Homo sapiens: one gene and its partners. The protein of the gene in region 1 purifies or fractionates together with the protein of each later gene. This does not show direct contact. Each region holds a gene or a part of one and is shown on either strand. Other genes may lie near its edges.

The links. Proteins that work in one complex are often made in the same cells at the same time.
Region 2: the proteins of BNIP5 (region 1) and ANKRD17 purify together in Homo sapiens (affinity purification with mass spectrometry; one large-scale study listed by BioGRID and IntAct). This does not show direct contact.
Region 3: the proteins of BNIP5 (region 1) and MTHFR purify together in Homo sapiens (affinity purification with mass spectrometry; one large-scale study listed by BioGRID and IntAct). This does not show direct contact.
Region 4: the proteins of BNIP5 (region 1) and PDLIM5 purify together in Homo sapiens (affinity purification with mass spectrometry; one large-scale study listed by BioGRID and IntAct). This does not show direct contact.

Annotation. Positions count from the first base shown.
Region 1 is NC_000006.12:36,317,575-36,319,888, forward strand, and holds part of BNIP5 (protein BNIP5), read right to left. Parts: intron 2,037-2,314; coding exon 1,782-2,036; intron 1-1,781.
Region 2 is NC_000004.12:73,140,299-73,143,798, reverse strand, and holds part of ANKRD17 (ankyrin repeat domain-containing protein 17), read left to right. Parts: intron 1-1,031; coding exon 1,032-1,159; intron 1,160-1,413; coding exon 1,414-1,557; intron 1,558-1,955; coding exon 1,956-2,058; intron 2,059-3,500.
Region 3 is NC_000001.11:11,792,465-11,795,964, forward strand, and holds part of MTHFR (methylenetetrahydrofolate reductase (NADPH)), read right to left. Parts: intron 2,885-3,500; coding exon 2,634-2,884; intron 2,400-2,633; coding exon 2,265-2,399; intron 2,075-2,264; coding exon 1,894-2,074; intron 1,626-1,893; coding exon 1,443-1,625; intron 1-1,442. UniProt on the Homo sapiens protein: Catalyzes the conversion of 5,10-methylenetetrahydrofolate to 5-methyltetrahydrofolate, a cosubstrate for homocysteine remethylation to methionine. Represents a key regulatory connection between the folate and methionine cycles.
Region 4 is NC_000004.12:94,573,942-94,577,441, reverse strand, and holds part of PDLIM5 (PDZ and LIM domain protein 5), read right to left. Parts: intron 1,827-3,500; coding exon 1,408-1,826; intron 1-1,407. UniProt on the Homo sapiens protein: May play an important role in the heart development by scaffolding PKC to the Z-disk region. May play a role in the regulation of cardiomyocyte expansion. Isoforms lacking the LIM domains may negatively modulate the scaffolding activity of isoform 1.

The sequences.
Region 1 (2,314 bases):
CCATTCTCAAAGGTCAAAATCAGCAACTCCACCTCCTGGAAGGCTCCCAGGACCTACTTGCTTCATGGGCCTCAGCTACCACTCATTTGGTATTTGGTTGCTATTTAATTTTGTCATCAAACTGTTGTCTTTTCCATTGGCAGATGAAGCCTTTGAAGGCAGAACCTTCCACAGAGCCTCACAGCCCTTTGCACAACTAAGCACATAGGAGGCTGTCAATAGCTACCAGTTAAATGAATGAATGAATGAATGAATGAATGGTTAGTAAAACCAGAAGATGGAGTCAGGGCAACTGAGGATGTCAGAACTGATGTTTCTATAATATCTTTCACGAATAACTCAGATCGATCTGTAAGCTATTACCTAAGCCACCCTAGAGGGCAAATTATCTGTAACATTCCTATTCTCTAGGAGAAGACAGTGAAGCCAAGGAGAGAGAGAGGTCCATGGTAAGGAGGATTTCTGACCAGGAAAATGAACCGAAGTAGAGGAGAGCATTTGAATGACAAGATACAACTACCATGAAATAAGCCAGCTCTCTTGAGAGACTTTTCAAATGGCTTCTAAAGGTAATTCCAAGAAAGACAGAAGTGTTTCGGGTGATAGTAGCATCATTGCAAAAGGTTTCCCAGGGGACCACTTGGATGTAGAAGTTCCGGTCCTGTTTGTCCAACACCAGCAAACAGAACATTTCATTCCTCTAAAGTTACACCTTCATTCAGAGGCTTCTACGCTGTGGATCTGGGTCAAATGTTTGTAAGCAGGTTATGTTAAGTGAATTAGAAAAGGATGAAGAAATCTTTATCAGAGTCCACCAGAAAATATGAGAGCTCAGAATTTTTAAAAAATCAGGCCAGCTGTGGTGGCTCATGCCTGTAATCCCAGCACTTTGGGAGGCCAAGGTGGGAAGATTTCTTGTGGCCAGGAGTTCAAAAGCAGCCTGGTCAACATAGTGAGAATCCATCTCTATACCAAAAAAAAAAAAAAGAAAATTTAAATTAGCTAGGCGTGGTGGCATGCTCCTGTAGTCCCAGCTACTTGAGAGGCTGAGGTGGGAGGATCATCTGAGCCCAGGAAGGTTGAGGCTGCAGTGAACCGTGATTACACCACTGCACTCCAGCCTGGGTGACAGAGCAAGACCCTGTCTCAAAAAAAAATCAGTGACAAGCATCATCTCTGAAGGGAATATCTCAGAGACTTGGGGGAGGCGAAATTATTAGGAAAAGCATAAATGCACTCAGAACAGTGAAGGTGACGGCAGGAGAGAGGCTGTTCATTAAGCAACCAAGGCCAGGTCAGTGAGTGATCGCCTCCTGGAAGCCTTCCAGAACCAACAGCCCATGGAGCCTTCTTGTCTATCTCAGCCACCCCTTATTTGATAGATAACCTTACTTTGTTATTTACATTTTATGACAGCCTAGAATTGAGAAGCCAAGCAACAGAGCCCACAAAATAATAACAAGGCAAGCTAAGATCGTAGCCAGTCCAATATGCCATTCTATCAAAAAGCATGGAAATGTACATGTAATTGAAGACTAGAGCCAAATAAACAAGATGTTAATTATGGAGTAAAATCAGTGAGGTTTCAGAAAAGAAAAAGGTTGTCATGGTTTAGAATTGTCTCAGAAGGCCTCAGTGAGGAGGTGACATTTGAGATAGACCCAAAAATTCTGAACTGAGCAGGGGAGGGGAGAGGAGGATAAGTAGATCCCACTGGAGGCCAGCTGTGAGCCTGCTGTCACTCATGCTACATTGCCATTGTCTTCCCCGCCCTCTCTCACCGGCTGGTCCTCCCTGTATGGGAACTGGGTGCAATTGTAGTGGTCTCTTAGGCCCATGAGGATGCACATGGCATGGCTGTTGCTGCCAGCAAATTTGTTAGCTAAGCTAACGTCAAACTGGTAGAGTCTCCTGGCGCGGTTCCTGTCCAGCTTAGAGGAGTGAGCCACCTGGCTGCGCAGGGTGGCTACCAGCTTGCTGAGGGAGGAGTCCGAGAACTCGTAAAAAAACCTCTTAAAGCTGGGGTGGCGCCTGATCTGGAAGTGGAAATGAAAACAGGTCATTAGTGTTGCTGGCAGTACCCCTCCCGCCAACTGCCCCTCCCACAACTCCATGCAGCCAGGCGGGGCACTCCTTGTCCCTGGGATGAGCTCCCCTTGTTACATCCCTCCACTGCCCCTAGCCTCTCAGAATCTGTTCTGCGAGGTCCAGCTCAAAGCAGCAGGACAAAGTAGAGGGCAAGGGTGGAAGTACAGGTCTTTAGACTCAGATAATTCAGAAGCAAACACCCCACAGAGTCTTCTCGTCTACCCTA
Region 2 (3,500 bases), on another chromosome or scaffold:
ACTGCACTCCAGCCAGGGTGACAGAGTGAGAACCTGTCTCAAAACAAAAAAAAGATGTAGGCCATATACAATTTTAAAAGGCAATAATATACCATTTTCTTCACATTATAATAATAGTAACGAAATCTCAAGTTTATAATTGTTTATAGGTAAAGAAAATTTGAAATAACTTACTGGCGAAATTACTTTCAACATTTTCCCATGCACTGGTGATATGCTTTAGAATACTGTTATGAATATATAGCATTATGTACATAATCGCTGTCCCCTCTCATTGGTTAATTTTAATGAGTTTGATTTCAGTTTCTTTCTGCTGTTTTATTTCCATTTCTCACATTACCTAGCACAGTAATCCAAATTAGGGATAGAGGTCAGGTGCAATGGCTCATGCCTGTAATTTCAGCATTTTGGCAGGCCAAGGTGGGAGGATCACTTGAGCCTAGGAGTTTGAGACTAGCCTAGGTAACATGCATGGCAAGACCCCATTTCTACGAAAACAACAAACGAATAAATTAGGGATACATTCCTATTTGGGAATAGGGGTGAATTATCTATTTTCCTTGTCAGGAATTTACTAATGGGAAAAAAAATGGTACTATTCTTTCTATTTAGTGTTTATTCTCTACATAAAGCCCATAGAGGGCAGTATAGTTTATTTTTATTCAGTCATCTTTTCTACTGAAGAACTTAAAATACAAATAAAACTTCATATTTTACTTTTAATACAGTTATTACATTAGGAGTAATGGGTACTTTGGTATCTTTTACTGGTGCATACTCAAACCTTTTCAAATTATATCGTGTTTGTCTGGGATTTATTTACTTTAGAATAATCCAAGATGGGAGAGGAGAATTAATGTAGGATATTTGTGAAATGAGATTGGCCTTGTGTTTATAATCATTAAAGCTCGGTAATGGGTATGTGGAGCCTCATAATACTATTTTCTCTACTCTTCATGATTTTTAAATTTACCATAATTTTAAGAAAAACCATTCTACTAATATGATTTTCCATGCCTTTTCTGTTTTAGGAGCGAATGTGAATAGAACCACAGCTAATAATGACCATACTGTACTGTCCCTGGCTTGTGCAGGGGGTCATCTGGCAGTGGTGGAACTACTTTTGGCTCATGGGGCAGATCCTACTCACCGTTTGAAAGTATGTAACTCAAATGTTTGTGCAGAATTGTGAATTAGTATTTCTCTCTTGGTCATTGTTACAACATATCATGTACAAGTTCCATTCATAATGGCATTCTAAGTGTAAATTTTCTCCTTTTTCACTTGAAGCGTTCTTTACCAAACCTATGATTTTAATGCGTCTGGGACCTGTTGGCTTTATCTTCCTAAGTGATTCTGTAAACTAACTTATTTTTCTTCACTTTTTTTCCCCTTCCATATTCACTCTTTTAGGATGGCTCAACTATGTTGATAGAAGCAGCAAAAGGTGGCCATACAAGTGTTGTTTGCTATCTCTTGGATTATCCTAATAACTTGCTTTCAGCCCCTCCACCAGATGTCACTCAGTTAACTCCCCCATCCCACGATTTAAATAGGGTAAGATTTTAAAAATTAAAGCATTTTATGGTATGTCTTCTTTATCCTAATTCTTTCACTTACAGTTTCTGTTTAAATTAGGGTTTTTTTTTGTTCTAATATGTAGTTCTGTTTGTAAATATGTACTTGATACAGTTAATGAACATCTGGTACAATATTCAGATCCTAGATGATATGATTATGCTTTAGCTTTTAAAGGTCACAACTTGAATTCAAAGCCTACTAAAAAATGTCGTGGTAAACAATTTGGTGCCAACATATTTTAAGTAAATATGTCATTGTCTAAGATGACATATTAAAAATATTGTCAAAAAATCTCTAATTTATTCTTTATTTAGAGCATATTACTTAATGGATTGTGTAGGACACTAATAGTCACTTAGTGTCCTTTGTCTTAGGCTCCTCGTGTACCAGTTCAAGCACTGCCCATGGTTGTTCCACCTCAGGAGCCTGACAAACCACCTGCCAATGTTGCCACCACTCTTCCCATCAGGAATAAAGGTCAGTTATACTTCTAAAGACTGTTTCTTACTTGGTGTCCAGGTAAAAATAAGATTACCAAAAAATAGACATTTCTACAAACAAAGAAGTTTACTAAGTTGGCATTACTAAATTTTTAACCCATGATAAAAGCATGTTATTGGGAGAAAAAAATAGTTAATAGCACTAATTTGTGCTACAATTAGAAGTTTTAGCATGAGAAATTCAGATGCTCATCTTTGATGCAGTTCTGATTATCCATGATTTCCTTTAATAGTAATTTTTATTCATGTAAAATGTTAAGCTGGGTATAGTTGAGCAATATTTTTATAAATTACTTACCTAAATCTCTGCAGTTATAAAGGCATAAATTAACAAGATGTATCAAATATTAGAAATTTATTTTAGAATGACTGGCTTAATATAGATTTTATATCTGATCTGGGATACCTTTTCTCAACCAATAATTCAGTTACTTGAGATATGCTTGTTTATTTCTCTAGAATTCTGAGGTCCATATTTGACTTGTGTATGTTACACCATGTGTGTTCTTAAGTAATGTCCCCAAACATTTTATACCTACCGGTTTGAATCAGTTTTTCTTTTTAAAAGTTTTACCTGAAGAAACAGTGCAGTTTTTATTTTTTGGTTTTTGGCTACGTATACTCTTTTATGAACAAGAATGCTAAGTATTTTCACCAGCTCTTTTCAGTCACTACTATCAACCTAGAGCCTTGGCACCTTTTTCAGTTGGTATAGCAAACAATTGATTGCTATACCTATAGCCAGATCTGTCTGTTCACCTGGCTGTCAGAAGATACAGTGGATGGCATAGTCCAGCATCTTTTCTTCCAGGGAAACTGAATCCCAATTCTCTACTGGCCAGATAGCTGTGTGAATATGTGAATTTATATCTTGCCTCTATTAGTCTTGAAGATGGTAGGCCCCAACAAAGACATATATTTTACTCAGATTTTAATTTCTTGTTACTTCTTAGTGGTTTGGGTACTTTTTGTGTGTATGTGTGTGTGTTTAAAAGGCACAGACTATGAAATGTGAAAAAACCTGACTTAGAGGTCTGTTTCCTCTTCACCCTAATAATTTAGCATTATTGTTCTGTTCTTATGATGAGTTTTAACATCTTTATGACCATATAAAATATCTACACATAGCCTTAGATGTTACTTTAATTGCACACTTAGATATCACAAACCTGCATTCCTCTATTGTCTAATTTAAGCCATGTGCTATTTTTAAGATTCTGAAATTAATTTACAAAGATTTTGCACATAAAATACATACATTTTATATTTGTGAAAAAGAAGGTGGATTTGTTTTTAATTTTTTAACAGTGCATTTTCACCTGTTATGGATATGATTACTTAGTGCATAACTGTTGGCACTAAACCTCCCAACAGTAACTCTGTAATGAGGATGCCATTCATGTGCACTTCTGAGGGGGT
Region 3 (3,500 bases), on another chromosome or scaffold:
GCCATGTGGGCGGAATAATGAACTGTGGCGTTGGCACGTCCATAAGCAAAGGGTGAGGGGAGTGGGGACGTGAGTTTCTCAGTCTGGACAGGTCTGAGGGCTATCAGCCACCCCTCTCCCAATCAGTCAGGGAAGACTCCACGAAGAAGCCATTTCTGAACAGCAGCAACTGGTTTGACAGGCCGAGTCATGGGAGAGAGGCCCCACACATTCCATCCTCCCCAGTGCAAGCTGACAATGACATTGACATCTCCTCTAGAACCAGTGCCTATCAGGGATTAAGCTGGGTTTACTCAAACTCATTTGCTAGAATGCTGATAATACGGGAGGCTGGGCACAGTGAGCCCCACGTGAGGAAAGTGGGTTCAGGGAAGTTGAGCACGTTGGCTACTCTGACAGTAAACAGTAGAGCTGGTCCTTAAACTCAGGTCTTTCTGCTCCAGGGCCTGTGGGCCTTAGATCAGAACATAATGTTAACTCCAGCAGCCCTGGGAGAAAGGTGTCAACTCAGGATAGTAACAGCAGCTGCCTTTCAGGGAGTGCTTCCTGCTCTTACCATGTGCCAAGCACGTTACATGCTTTGTTAGGTTTCATGCCCAGAACACAAGCTACATCCCATTTTACAGACGAGAAAACCAGGCTCAGAGAGGTCGAGTGACCTGCCTCCATAGGTCTGATTTCTATCTTTTTTTTTTTTTTTTTGAGATGGAGTCTTGCTCTGTTGCCCAGGCTGGAGTGCAGTGGCATGATCTCAGCTCACTGCAACCTCCGTCTCCCGGGTTCAAGCGATTCTCCTGCCTCAGCCTCCCAAGTAGCTGCAACTACAGGTGCCCGCCACCACACCCGGCTAATTGTTGTATTTTTAGTAGAGATGGGGTTTCATCATGTTTGTCAGGCTGGTCTCGAACTCCTGACCTTGTGATCTGCCCACCTTGGCCTCCTAAAGTGCTGGGATTACAGGCATGAGCCACCAAGCCCAGCCAATCTTTTTTTTTTTTTTTTTTTTTTTTTTTTGAGACAGGGTCTCACTTTGTGGGCCAGGCTGGAGTGCAGAGGCACAAATATGGCTTACTGGAGGCTCAACCTCTCGGACTCAAGCGATCCTCTCACCCCAGCCCCCTAAGTACCTGGGACTACAGGTGTACACCACCATGCCTCGGTCATTTTTGTATTTTTTGTAGAGAATGGGTTTCACCATGTTGCCCAGGCTGGTCTCGAACTCCTGGGCTCAAGTGATCCACCCGCCTTGGCCTCCCAAAGTGCTGGCCGGGTTCCGTGCCCAGCCAGGTCTATCTGACTTAAAGCATGAGCTCCCATCCGCTCCAATCCATGCTCATTCAAAATTTAAGAGCCCAGGAGAGGCAGGCTGCTCTGCCCTAAGCTCTGGGGAACCCACGGGTGCCGGTCAAGAGAGGGGGGCACCCCGTGCCTCCCTACCACACCTTCTGGAAGACATAGCCCCCGCTGGGGCCCCAGCCCACGATGGGGTCGGAGGACGGCTTCCCGTTGATGTTGGGCTGTGAGTTGATGGTGAGGATGCCCTGGCGGTTCACCCGCAGCAGCTCCTCCTTCAGCAGGCTGGTCTCAGCCGCCAGGGGCTCATCGTTCCAGGGCAGGCAAGTCACCTGGGAGAGACGGTGAGCTGGCTGGGGCGACCATCAGGTTTGGCACCCTGAGTCCCTCTCACGGCCCCCAACAAAGACCCAGCCTGTCTTTGCCTCCCTAAGCCCTTCCAGGTGGAGGTCTCCCAACTTACCCTTCTCCCTTTGCCATGTCCACAGCATGGAGGGGAGGGCACAGGATGGGGAAGTCACAGCCCCGCAGCCTGGCCTGCAGCTGGGGTCAGGCCAGGGGCAGGGGATGAACCAGGGTCCCCACTCCAGCATCACTCACTTTGTGACCATTCCGGTTTGGTTCTCCCGAGAGGTAAAGAACGAAGACTTCAAAGACACTTTCTTCACTGGTCAGCTCCTCCCCCCACATCTTCAGCAGCTCCTCCTTGGGGGACTTGCTCTTCAGGTAGAAGAGGTAGTAGTCCTTCAGCTCCCCAAAGGCAGGGGAAGAGGAATTGCCCCTGGCAGAGGGGTGCCCAGAGGTCAGGGCACACTCCTGACAGAGGGCAGTGCCACCACATGCCCAGGAGGCCATTCCTGTAAATTCTGCCCCTGACTCCTCCCAGGTCAACCACAAGCATGCAAACTTCTTCTGCCCTCCCGCTCCCAAGAACAAAGATGTATTTGCAAGGAAGGTCTGCAGGCCCTCACCAGCGGCCGTTAGGGAACTCGTCCCACTCCTGGGTACGGTAGATGTAACTCTTTGGTCTGGAGGCCCAGAAGATGGGACGTACATCTTCCTCTCGGCGCTTGGGGTGGGCGCTGAGAGCCCAGGGTAGGGGACGCCTGGGTGAGGATGGGGACAGAGAATTGAGACAAGGGATTGGCTAGAGGGAGCCGGAAGCAGGGGAGCACCCCTGAGGCTGAGTTCTTCCATCTGATGCCCTCTGAGACTGGAGCCTTCGATGTGCCCAGCTAGCCATGGCACAGACATCCATCTGTACCACCGTGGGGAGCCAGCACTGCAGCCGGGGCTGCTCTTGGACCCTCCTCTGGGGATCTCTGGGCCACTGCCCTCACCTGGGGTCCTCAGTCCACATCCCCAGGCGCTTCAGCACCTCTGTGGTAGCCATCTCGCGGTTGAGGGTGTAGAAGTGGAGGCCTGGCACCAAGCCACTGGCCAGAAGCTCCTGGCACAGGCTCACGGCCAGCTCGATGCCATAGTTGCGGATGGCAGCATCGTTGTCTTTGATTGGCTCAATCACGTCCTTGATCTCCTGTGGCACCTCCAGCTTGGACAGCTTCACAAGCTGCCGAAGGGAGTGGTAGCCCTGTCCAAGACATGAGGGGCTGTGGCGGCTGCTGGCCAGCCCGTCTCCCACCCTAAATACTTCTCCCCCTTCCATCATCCATGCCAACCACAGTGTCAGGCAGAGGGACCCACGAAAGTCCGATCATATTCTAGGAGCACACCTGGGCTTGGCCTGCCGTTTTCTCCTCTTTTTTCTGTTTTTAGAGACTGAGTCTCACTGCTCTCAAACGCCAGGGCTCAAGCCATCCTCCTGCCTCAGCTTCTCAAGTAGCCGGGACTACAGGCACGTGCCACTATGCCCAGCTTTCCCACTTTTTACAGAGTAGAGCAGCTGCCCTAAGCATTCCAGCCTTGGGTTGAGCCAGCCTTTTAGCCCTAGATGTGTCTGTTGGTAACATGGTGTCATCTAACCCAGCTGTTCCCATGCTGCACTGATCATCCGAATCACCTGCCAAGCTCAAGAAGTAAAACACACATTCCGAGGACCTCCCTCAGATTTACTGAGTGAGAACCTCCAGGGGTGGGACCTGGAGATCCACTTTTTGAAAAAGCTTATCAAGTGGTTCTGATGACAGCCACCTTTGGGAAACACTGATTTAAGCAGGATTTGTAATGAGAATTAGAATCCCTTTTGG
Region 4 (3,500 bases), on another chromosome or scaffold:
CCTCAAGACCGTATGTACAGCCCAGGAGCTGTTCTTCTAGAGCTCCTGCTCTCCCTCTCTCAGCAGCAGCCTGGAGTTTTGCCACCTTCTCTTTCAAAGCCCCAAAGTTGCCATGGCAGCAGTGCTACAGAAAGCACAGCCTCTTCATTACAGGAATTAACATTCAGAAGGGATTATCTCAGAGAATGGACCTATCCACACAAGTATTTTAATTATATTTTCCTGGGAACTGGCATTGGTAAAAACCATCAGGCCTGTAGACTATTTCCCTTTGTCTTCCTTTTAAGGTACATTTTTGTCACAATAAATCTGATAAAAATGATTTTACATAAATGACTGCCTTAAAGTATCATCCCTGAATTCCAAAAGCAATAAAATGACCATCATTATTCTCTCTCTTTTCTTTACTTTTTTCTTTGCAAGTAGGATTACATTATAGAAAAGAATTATTTTTAAAAAAGATACTGTACATAACCTCTCACGGCCAACTTAAATCCTTGCTCCTCAACATAAATTTCTGACTATCTGATAACATTATATTTGAACCGAAAGTGTTAAAAAAAAATAAACAAATAATTGAAGGTTGCTGAAAAACAGATGTGTGATCTTATAACTATGTGTAGTTCAAATAAGTTAATAACTTCAACCAATTTTTTTAATAAAAAGATACCCCCAAAAGGGAAAAACGATAAGAAACAGATTTTCAAAGTGTTCTGCTAACATGTATGTTTAGTGTCCAATGGCTTAAATTTACTCATTTCAGAAAACGTTTACAATGAAAGTATTTTATAATTTGCTTCTAATGCTTTCTAAGCGTGCCTTGTTGTTTCATTACTGTCTGCTTTTAAAGAATAAATTCTAACTTAAACTTATCTGAAAACAATGTTGTTAGCTCTCTGCTCTAAGCTAATGCTTCACATATAGACATGAGTCAAAAGCGGACTGGTTTTCCTAAGATTACCTCCTAGAAAAAAAACCCCTTACAAATTCATGATTTCCCCTCTCCTTACGATGAGTTGTGTAAGGTGACAGCAACTGTAACCACTGTTTGAACTTTTGGTGGCCTATTTAAAAGAATGAAAAAATTGAGGAAGAAAGATTCAAGATTTGCCTTGCATTACAAGTGCCAGCTGCTCAATGCTGTGTCGGGACTTACAAAAAATGAGTTACAGAGATGTTACATGGTTCAGAACATGTCAAAATGCACAAGTAGCTTTTGAATAAGTGATAATTGCTTTGCAGAAAGTACCCTATGTATATAAAGGCCATATGTTAATGAGGCAAATAATACTTCATCTCCCTTCCTTCAAAGAAAGTTGGTTTTGGGGGAGAGGAATGTAGAGTATTTCCTGGAAATTACCTGAAAGAAGAGTTTTAGTAAGAGCAGAAAGCACCTTAGCCACCTACCCATTTTGCTGTTTACTGTCACCCTGGGATCCTCTTCTCTGTCCCTCTGCTAGCTCCTGAGAAGTCTCGGAACACACGCTGGTGACTGTGGGCTGCCGTGGGACATTAACTGCAGTTTTACCAGCGCTCAGTGCAGATGGAGACTGGTCAGCACTAAGATTGGCATTAGCATGCAGTCCAGATGCAGCGAACAGGGGAGGAGTGACGGCAGCCACGGGTGAAGGGGAAGCATGTGATGAGGTGGTCGCATGGGCTGGGGTGAAGGCAGACGATGGTGATGGGATGGATGTGACTTTTGGTGAAGACACAGAACCAAAAGGCCGTGGTGCCTTATTGTAGGCCATGTTGTTTGTGGAAGTGACTTTGGACACAGCAGGAGATGTAATGGGCACAGGTTTAACTACTTCTTTAGGTTCTCCCTATGTAAAACAAAAATAAACATACACAAAACCACACCAAACACATGCAAAATATATTTCACCGAAAAGAACACAGAGCTGATTTTTTAAAAGACAAACACAATCAGGTTAGCAGCTCAAACATCATGTTTCCAGATAAAAACAATGGGCTGATAAAGCATAACGTGCATGCTAACTAGTCCCAACATGCATAACACAGATGCACACATTAGGTATAATTTTTAAAAATAAAAATGAAAGTAGTTTCAAAATATTTCGGAAATACAGCAGGAAAACTATCAGAAAGCCTAAAGCCCCTCATCAGTGTCAACCTAGGCATATTCCAAAGGAAAAATGTTTAAATACCCTACAATAAACAAAACATTGCTAACTGAGGTGTTTTTTATGTTAAAATATCCAAAGCCCATCTTTCCATCTTTCAAAGCCCATAGTCCCATTTTTCAAACATGTTTCATTTCTCTCCAGAGTGGAATCATTTGTTTCACGCAGAAGGAGCAGCACATTTCTAACTCTTTAAGTTTAAAAAAACAAAAAACACAGGGAATAAGATAATTTTCACCTAACTCAGGAATGTGCAAACTCTAATTAATAATCTTAAAGAATTTGAAAAAAAAAAAAAAACTTTAAAAAAGCAAATAAAACAAAATCCTTTCTTTCTTGTAATCCACCTCCATTTCTCTCTCTGAATGTTTTAAGATATGATTCAGAGATAGAATAAAATTCTTTTCCTTTTCCAAAATAAATATTTAATAGTTACATGAAGAAAAAAAAATCTTCAATATTTCCCCATCGTCAGCAGCCAAAGAAAAAACAACTAGTAAGAAAGGTCAATTCCTCCTAAAATTACCAGAATTTTTATTTGCCAATCCTTATTCCAAAGCATATTTAAAGTTAAACAAAATCAGACTAAGCTTCTACAACATTCAAGAATAAATCCCAGGAGGCGGGATAGCTCAGAGGTAGAGCGTTAGACTTCAGATCAAGAATAAATCCCTATTCCACCCTACCATATCAAAAGAAAAAATCAAATTTTTGAAAAATCATACAATGGTGGTTCTACTGTTTAATTTTAAGAAAAAAGGTAATCTCAATTCATCTTGTTTTTTTTTTTTTTTTTGAGACAGGAGTCTTGCTCTGTCACTGAGGCTGGAGTGCAGTGGTGTGATCTCAGCTCACTGTAACCTCCACTTCCCGGGTTCAAGTGATTCTCCCACCTCAGCCTCCTGGCTAGCTGGGACTACAGATGCGTGACACCATGCCCAGCTAATTTTTGTATTTTCAATAGAGATGAAGTATCACCATGTTGGCCAGGCTGGTCTCAAACTTCTGACCTCAGGTGATCCGCCTGCCTCGGCCTCCCAAAAAGATGGGATTACAGGCGTGACCCACCGCGCGCAGCCTCAATTCATCTTATAGGAAGAAGAAAACTAATTGAGAAAAATAAGTAGCTTAGTGCCCACACGAATCAATACAGGTTGAGTATCCCTTATTTAGACAGCTTGGGACCAGAAGCATTCAGATTTCAGATATTCTCAGATTTTTGAATCTTTGTAGAATGCAGGAGCATCCCTAATCCAAGAATCCAAAATCTGAAATGCTGCAATGGTCATGTGAGCATGTCAGTGTTCAGAAAGTTTGGGATTTTGGAGCATTTTGGATTTTCTAATTAGGGAT